Homo sapiens: one gene and its partner. The protein of the gene in region 1 purifies or fractionates together with the protein of each later gene. This does not show direct contact. Each region holds a gene or a part of one and is shown on either strand. Other genes may lie near its edges. The genes, in order: METTL23 and UGGT2.

Region 1 (4,437 bases):
AAAACAACATTCTTAGCTCACAGACCTTACAAACTAGCTAAATTACCCGATTTAAAAATATTTAACAAAAGCTAAAAACAAGCAATATACACATGTCAACTTAACACATCTGAACATAACCTAGAACTCTGGAAACTTCAGGGGCATTTGTACCTCTAAGATGGCCTTGCCTGGCAGAGATCTTCTGTGAAACCAAAGGTACTGGGCCAGGACCACAGCACAGGGCCAAACATACATTCCATACTGGAGATGCAGGACCTGAAAAGAATGTTTTTGTGTGCCATAAATAATTTAGCTGCTGGAAGTTGGAATCATTCATACAGCAATTTCTGTCAGGCATTGGCATCCATTACAAAAATGGCAGCCCTGTTCACCAATCCACGACCTTTGGGGATATAAAACTGCAATGCAATGTGATAGAAACTCTTGATAGCACTGTTTATTCAACAAGTGCTTCTAGTGTCACAGTATCAGGGATCATTCTCAGACTGGGGATATAGCTCTCCCTGAGCACATATCCTACTGTAGAGAGGCAACGAGCAAGCAAATAAGATATTTCTAGTCAGGGGCCGGGCACGGTGACTCAGGCCTGTCATCCCAGCACTTTGGGAGGATGAGGCGGGCGGATCACCTGAGGTCAGGAGTTTGAGACCAGCCTGGCTAACATGGTGAAACCCCTGTCTCTACTAAAAATACAAAAAATTAGCCGGGCATGGTGGCACGTGCCTGTAATCCCAGCTGAGGCGGGAAAATCGCTTGAACACGGGAGGCGGAGGTTGCAGTGAGCCGAGACTGCGCCACTGCACTCCAGCCTGGGCAACATAGTGAGACTACGTTTCAAAAAAAAATGGCCGGGCGTGGTGGGTCACGCCTGTAATCCCAGCACTTTGGGAGGCCGAGGTGGGTGGATCATCAGGTCAGGAGATCGAGACCATCCTGGCTAACGCGGTGAAACCCCGTCTCTACTCCACTAAAAATACAAAAAAATTAGCCGGACATGGTGGTGGGCACCTGTAGTCCCAGCTACTCCGGAGGCTGAGACAGGAAAATGGCGTGAACCCGGGAGGCAGAGCTTGCAGTGAGCAGAGATCTCGCGACTGCACTCCAGCCTGGGCGACAGAGCAAGACTCCAACTCCAAAAAAAAAAAAAAAAAAGGAAAGAGGCTTCTATTCTCACAGGCAATATCATCACCCCCTACATTTAGGAAGAAATGCAAGTGTATTTAAACGTGAAGCCAGCCGGGAGCGGTGGCTTACACCTGTAATCCCAGCACTTTGGTAGGCCGAGGCAGGTGCATCACCTGAGGTCAGGAGTTCAAGATCAGCTTGGCCAACATGGCAAAACCCCGTCTCTACTAAAAATACAAAAATTAGCCAGGCATGGTGGTGGGCGCCTATAATCCCAGCTACTTGGGAGGCTGAGGCAGGAGAATCACTTGAACCCACGAGGCGGAGGTTGCAGTGAGCTGAGATTGTGCCACTGCACTCGTCTGGGTGACAGAGCGAGACTCCATCTCCAAAAAAAAAAAAAAAAATCCGTGAAGCCAGATTGGGTGTGGTGGCCAATGCCTGTAGTCTCAGTTACTTGAAAGGCTGAGGTGGGAGGATCACTTGAGCCCAGAGGTTGAGGTTGCAGTTAGCAAAAAAAAGTGAAGCTGTTTGGAAACAATCAGAAATAGCCTCCACTCCAGTCTTTTTTTTTTTTTTTCTTCTTGACAATGTCTTGCTCTGTTGCTCATGCCTGAGTGCAGTGGCCTGATCATAGCTCACAGCAGCCTCGACCTCTCGGGCTCAAGCAATCCTCCCACCTCACCCTCCGGAGTAGCTGGGGCTACAGGCACAAGCCACGATGCCTAATTTTTCTACTTTTTGTAGAGACGTAGTATCACTATATTGCCCAGGCTGGTCTGGAACTCCTGGTCCCAAGCGATCCTCCCGCCTCCGCCTCCCATTTAACTTCTCTAAAGCTGTTTCTTTAGCATGGGACATGCCTCACAGGCTGGTGTTAAAACCAAATGAAATACTGCAAAGTGAAAGTGCTTTGAAAAACCGAAGACAGGCAGGGCATGGTGGCTCACTCCTGCAATCCCAGCACTTAGGCAGGCGGGAGGATCACTTGAATCCGGGAGTTGGAGGTTGCAGTGAGCTGTGATCGCGCCACTGCGCTCCAGCCTGGGCGCCAGAGCGAGACAGTGTCTCAAAAAAAAGAAAAGAAAAAGAATTATTATTGAGAGTTTTGTTGTAGCTGTGAGCTTAGAGGAAGAAGCGAGGTCCAACCCAAGAAACACTTTGGGCACCAAATAAAACTGGAAACCCTGATCCCAAAACTCACACAAAAGTGAGAGATAAGGATGAATCAAGAAACCCTTGGACAAGATCAAAAGAAGCATTAGAGGTCAGTCAAGAATGTCACTTTCCTGGCAGGAAAGATTCGATGTGGAGAAAGCCGGCCCGGCGCAGTGGCTCATGCCTGTAATCCTAGCACTTTGGGAGGCCGAGGCAGGAGGATCACTTAAGCTTACAGTTCGAGACCAGCCTGACCAACATAGTGACCAGGGTCACTTCTTGGCAGGGTCTCCAAAATTCTTACTGAGAGACATTTAATGCACCGAAGGGCTTCATATCCGACGTTTTTGCTCCGGGGGTCAACCTAAAGCAGGAAGCTGCGCAGCTGAGCGTCCGCACCCCCGGTCCCTCAGGAACCCAGCCAAGTCAGCCGACATCCGCTCCTGACCTCAGGCGCCTCCTGGCGGGTGCTGCTGCACGCACCTGCGGGACGTGGACCTCCAGGACAGCCCCGTCGGCCCCCGGACCCGGCTCCTCCGAGAATCGAAAGCGCTGGGCCCGGACCCCCTGTCCTCGGAAATCGTGCTCGCCCAGTAGGGCGTCGTTGGGCCCCGGGCGGGCGGGGGACCGCGGAAGGCTCCGGGCTGCCAGACTGCGCGAGCGGGAAGCCGCGGGCCACGTGGCCGTAGCACCTGACGGCAAGAAGGGGAAAGCCCAGATCTGGTGATAACCCTGCCGCGCTGCGAGCGAAGAAAGCCCGGAGCAAGGCGAAAGAGACTCACACGCGCAGAACTGGCAACGGGCGGCTGGCGCGACCGGAAGTGATGGGCACAGCGGCAGCGCGGGAGGGGAGGGGCGGGGCGGGGCGGGGCGGTGACGCAGCCGACGTGACCTTCCCAACATGGCGGAGGCCCGCCGTATGTGAAGGAGTACCCCAGGGGAGCCAAAGCCAATGGAAAACCGCGAGAGGCGTCGGGGCGGGGAAGACGGCGGCCGCTTGCCCAACCCGAGGCTCGGGAGGTGGCTGGGGAGTGAATTTTCTGGAAGGCGACTTTAAAGGCGCCGGGACTGAGCGAAGGGCGTTTGGGTACTGCCGTCGCCGCCGCCCAGGCCGGGGAGGGGTGCGTTAGTGTCAGGAAGCGGGCTGCGCCGAGGTCGTAGCGGAACCAGCTGGCGACCCCGCAGAATGAACCACAAGAGCAAGAAGCGCATCCGCGAGGCCAAGCGGAGTGCGCGGCCGGAGCTCAAGGACTCGCTGGATTGGACCCGGCACAACTACTACGAGAGCTTCTCGCTGAGCCCGGCGGCCGTGGCGGTGAGCGGGTCGGGCGGGGGTGGCCAGGCCGGGCATCGGCACCTCCAGCCGCTACGCACCTTTCTCTGGGCCCGAGGCTGCCCTCGCCCCGAGCGCCCGGGACCTCGTAGAGGCTCACCCGCACCCCGCGGAGTTTGGGGTCCCCGAGGCGCGGATTCCGGGGCGGGTCTGCTTCCTCCCGTGCTGTGGCCGCCCGTCTGCTCTGGCGGACGACGGGAGTCCCACGCCTGTGGCGCTCTCAACTAGAAGGCCCGTCGTCCCTGACTCCTTTGGGCGGCGGGTCCCCTAGGGGACCTGGCTGTCAAGGCTCATGGGGGGTGGCTCTAGGAACGACGTGGCCTCACGCACGCGCCCTGCCCCCACCCCGGAGGAGCCAGACGAGAGTCAACTTCCTTCGGTTTGTCATTACCAGTTGGCCTTGGGGACACCCTTATCTGCCACTGGACTTTTTTTTTTTTTTTAACTGGACAGGTCTTTTTTAATTCCCTCAGGATAACGTGGAAAGGGCAGATGCTTTACAGCTGTCTGTGGAAGAATTTGTGGAGCGGTATGAAAGACCTTACAAGCCCGTGGTTTTGTTGAATGCGCAAGAGGGCTGGTCTGCGCAGGAGAAATGGACTCTGGAGCGCCTAAAAAGGAAATATCGGAACCAGAAGTTCAAGTGTGGTGAGGATAACGATGGCTACTCAGTGAAGATGAAGATGAAATACTACATCGAGTACATGGAGAGCACTCGAGATGATAGTCCCCTTTACATCTTTGACAGCAGCTATGGTGAACACCCTAAAAGAAGGAAACTTTTGGAAGACTACAAGGTGCCAAAGTTTTTCACTGAT
Region 2 (3,809 bases), on another chromosome or scaffold:
ACTACACTTTAATCATTAGTTCTTTTTAATAAAGAAGAAAAAGTTCTGTCATAAATTCTTTTGAAAAAATGTAAAAGTAACATTAATATGGTTATTATAAAATGACATAAGGGCTAAAGAGTAAGAGGCAGAACATGTGACTAATATGGTTTGGCTGTGTGCCCACTCAAATCTCATCTTCAATTGTAGTTCTCATAATCCCCATGTGCCGTAGGAGGGACCCAGTAGGAGGTAATTAAATCATGGAGGCAGTTGCCTCTATGCTATTCTTGTGATAGTGACTTCTCAGGACATCTGATGGTTTTATAAGGGGCTTTCCCCTTTTGCTCATACTTCTCCTTCCTGCCACTATGTGAAGAAGCACGTTTGCTTCCCCTTCTGCCATGACTGTAAGTTTCCTGAGGCCTCCCCAGCCATGCTGGGGAGTCAATTATACCTCTTTCCTTTATAAATTACCCAGTCTCAGGTATGTCTTTATTAGCAGCATGAGAACGGACTAATACAGTGACATGGCTAGTTGTTGATACCCAGTCAGCCATGCCACCTAAGCTTGCTGCTTCAGGCAAATACTTAACTTCCTTACAACTCAGATGCCTATTCATTGACAGAAGGATAATCCAGAAAGAATGCTGATATCTTTATAAGATATATATGTATAATCAAAATATAAAACTCACCAAATTATGAAAATTGCGCCTTATGGAAGGTACACTTCCAGGAAATACTGGCTTCAGAAGTTTCTGGCAACTTGTAGGCCATGTAATATACAAATCATCATTTTCTAAGTCATTAATCCACTAGAAAAGAACGCAGACACTTGTGAAAGCTATATTAACACTGAAATCATTTTCAAAGCCAGATTTTTACTATATCGTGATAAATAAAAATATACATAGAATTTTCTATATTTCTGATTAAATAGAGGAGCTAGTTTAATATTCTCTAAATTAAGGAATACATTATGTGCAACAATTTTATACTTGTGTAGCCTTTTACATTAAGCCTTCTCTCAAAAACAATTCCTTTCACTTGTGTTTGTTTTTCATATCCCAACGTAAAATTGTATGAAAATTACTCTCCATAAACCACTTAAGAGAGATGAATATTTATTTTAATTATCAGCAGTAAATGAAGCCCTCTCCACCTCCCCTCTCAATTTAAAGGCTTGGATATAAGGAAAATAAAATGGCTTATAAAAATTAAATTATAAAATCAACATCTTAGAAATCAAGTTCTAATCCACTATACAAGCTGGAGAAAACATATAAACTGCTGTTTAGAGGCATGTGGTCGGGGAAGCAACCACCAATCAAGAAGTGAGGCATTATGGTCCTTGAAAGCAGGAGGCATAAGCAGCAAGCTCCACATTCACCTAAACTTCATCCCTGGGTCCCCAGATTGCGTCCTGGAGAAATACTGAGTTGGAAAGCAGAAGTCAAAGTACGGGCTGCCAAAGTGCTGAGATTTGAGGGCAGGATGCAGGGTGAGAGGGTAGGAGAGAAGGAAACTGCAGGAAACCAGAAAAATCTCCATACAAATTCCTCTCAAGTCATTTGCTGACTCCTATCCTGCACATATACATGGTAACACCTCTACAAAAGCCAGAAGGAAAGAGAAACGGAGAGGTTGAAACCACAGCTATAAAATAGTACTGAGAAGACAGAGACCAAAGTCCAAGTACTATATAGTACTATATACACTGTAGACTTTCATTTGAGACCCAGTAAGGCCAGATCCTAGAAGTAAGACACAAAAATAGTAGAGCCTTCACAAAGCCTAAAAACAAGCTTCAACAGAAGCAAGTGAGCATCTGGCACTGAGGATACCAGAACAAACCTTAGCTCTTTGCTTCTACAGCTTTTCATCAATTTCTGGCTCTCACAAAAAAAAAAAAAAGTCATGCAAAGAGAAAAGGACCAAATATTGAAATGAAACAGGAAAAAAAAAAAAGACAATAAAAAACCCCAAAGATTACTTAGACAAGGACTTTAAAATAACTATCAATATATTTTTTAAAAAGTACAAAAATTTCTAAAAAGAAAAATTTTGACAGAACTAAAATCTGTTTAAAAAGAATCAAAGAGATATTTAAGGTTTTTAAAATATAATATTTATAATTAAGAACTCTAAGAACTTATTGGGTGGGTTTAATTGCAGACTGTACGCAGAAGAGACAGGGATTAGTAAACGTGACAACAGATCAACTGTTATAGTAACTAAACTACAAAGAAAAGAATAAACAAACCAAACAAAGTGTGAGAGAGATTAGGAATATATGAAAAAGATCTAGCATATAGGTAACTAAAAATCCAAGAGGAAAGGAGAGAAAGTCTGGAGCAAATAATACTTGAAGAAATTAGGTTTCTACAGTAATTCAGATAATCCAGGTATGAGTTTATTGTGGACTGAACTAAGTCAGAGGCAGTGGCTTCAGAGAAAAGGTGACAGAATTAAGAGACACACACAGATGGATGAATAAAACAGAGGAATTTAGGGTATATGTTCCAATAGCTAAAAGAAACGATGTCTAAATAAAGGAAGGCATGAAGACAAATCAATAAACAGATAAAAATTACAAAAAGAACCAAATAAAAATTTTGGAATTCAAAAGTATAATAATTGAAATAAAAAATTAATGAGAGGAGCTCAACAGCATATTTGAGCAGTTAGAAGAAAGAATTAATGAATTTGAAGGTAAGTCAATGAGCTTACTCAGTCTGAGGAAGAAAAGAGAAAGGAAGATATAGGTGCAGAGGAGTCTAGCCCCAAAGGGGAAACAGGCCTTATCTTGACCCAAAGGCAGCTGAGGGTGAGAATTTGGCAGCTCTTTGGAAAGGGCAATCAGAACTCCCATTCCCAATGGAGCTCAGAATCATACAGAGCCTTCAAGCAGTGCCACTTTTCCTGACTAAAAGCAAGTGTGCCTAGACAGACAAAATGAGACTCTCAACTACAGTGCAACTAAACTTGTGGTCTGAAGACTGTTAATAACCTATAAGTACAGAAATTAAGTGTTCAACAACTTGCAGTAATTTGACATGGCCATGACATTTGAGCATGTATCAGTCTCATTTCACTGAACATGGTATAAGCCAGCTTGGGGTTCATCAAACTCCTGTGGTGTGCCACATGTAGTACAAAATACATATTACAGCACTTTGGGAGCCTGAGGTGGGTGGATCATGAGGTCAGGAGTTCGAGACCAGCTTGGCCAACATAGTGAAACCCCATCTCTACTAAAAATACAAAAATTAGCCAGGCATGGTGATACACGCCTGTAGTGCCAACTACTCAGGAGGCTGAGGCAGGAGAATCGCTTGAACCCAGGAGGCAGAGGTTGTGGTAAGCTGAGATTGCACCACTGCACTCCAGCCTGGGCAATAGAGCGAGACTGTCTCAAAAAAAAAAAGATACATATTAGTCATAGGAGTAGGACAACATATTGATTGGCAACAGGTTAAGGAAAAAATGTTATTCTCTTACTATGGATAGTTTAAGAAGTAGTGCTCTAGCACTTGATGAGGGCTATCTCTGAAAAACCACAGGAAAAAAAAAAGAAGAAAAAAAGAAATTAACAAAAAAAGATACGACGGCCCCAGGCTTTGCTAGGGTCCAAGATGAAAGCATTATCTGTGGTCATTCTGATACTGATAAGATTTTGGCAAAAGATATACCCACCCCCTAGTATCTGTAGGGGGATAGGTTCCAGGACTCCCCGAGGATACCAAAATCTAAGAATATGCAAGTCTCTAACATAAAATGGCATAGTATTTGCATAGAACCTACTCACATCCTTCCATATACCTTAA

The links.
Region 2: the proteins of METTL23 (region 1) and UGGT2 purify together in Homo sapiens (affinity purification with mass spectrometry, with the first as the bait; one study listed by BioGRID). This does not show direct contact.

What each region holds. Positions count from the first base shown.
Region 1 is NC_000017.11:76,725,511-76,729,947, reverse strand, and holds the start of METTL23 (histone-arginine methyltransferase METTL23), read right to left. Parts: upstream 3,110-4,437; 5' UTR 2,770-3,109; exon of another isoform or gene 2,418-2,769; intron 259-2,417; 5' UTR 243-258; coding exon of another isoform or gene 238-242; coding exon 154-237; intron 1-153. Other genes in the region: bifunctional arginine demethylase and lysyl-hydroxylase JMJD6, read left to right, coding at 3,473-3,601, 4,093-4,437. UniProt on the Homo sapiens protein: Histone methyltransferase that dimethylates histone H3 at 'Arg-17', forming asymmetric dimethylarginine (H3R17me2a), leading to activate transcription via chromatin remodeling.
Region 2 is NC_000013.11:95,948,658-95,952,466, forward strand, and holds part of UGGT2 (UDP-glucose:glycoprotein glucosyltransferase 2 precursor), read right to left. Parts: intron 798-3,809; coding exon 678-797; intron 1-677. UniProt on the Homo sapiens protein: Recognizes glycoproteins with minor folding defects. Reglucosylates single N-glycans near the misfolded part of the protein, thus providing quality control for protein folding in the endoplasmic reticulum.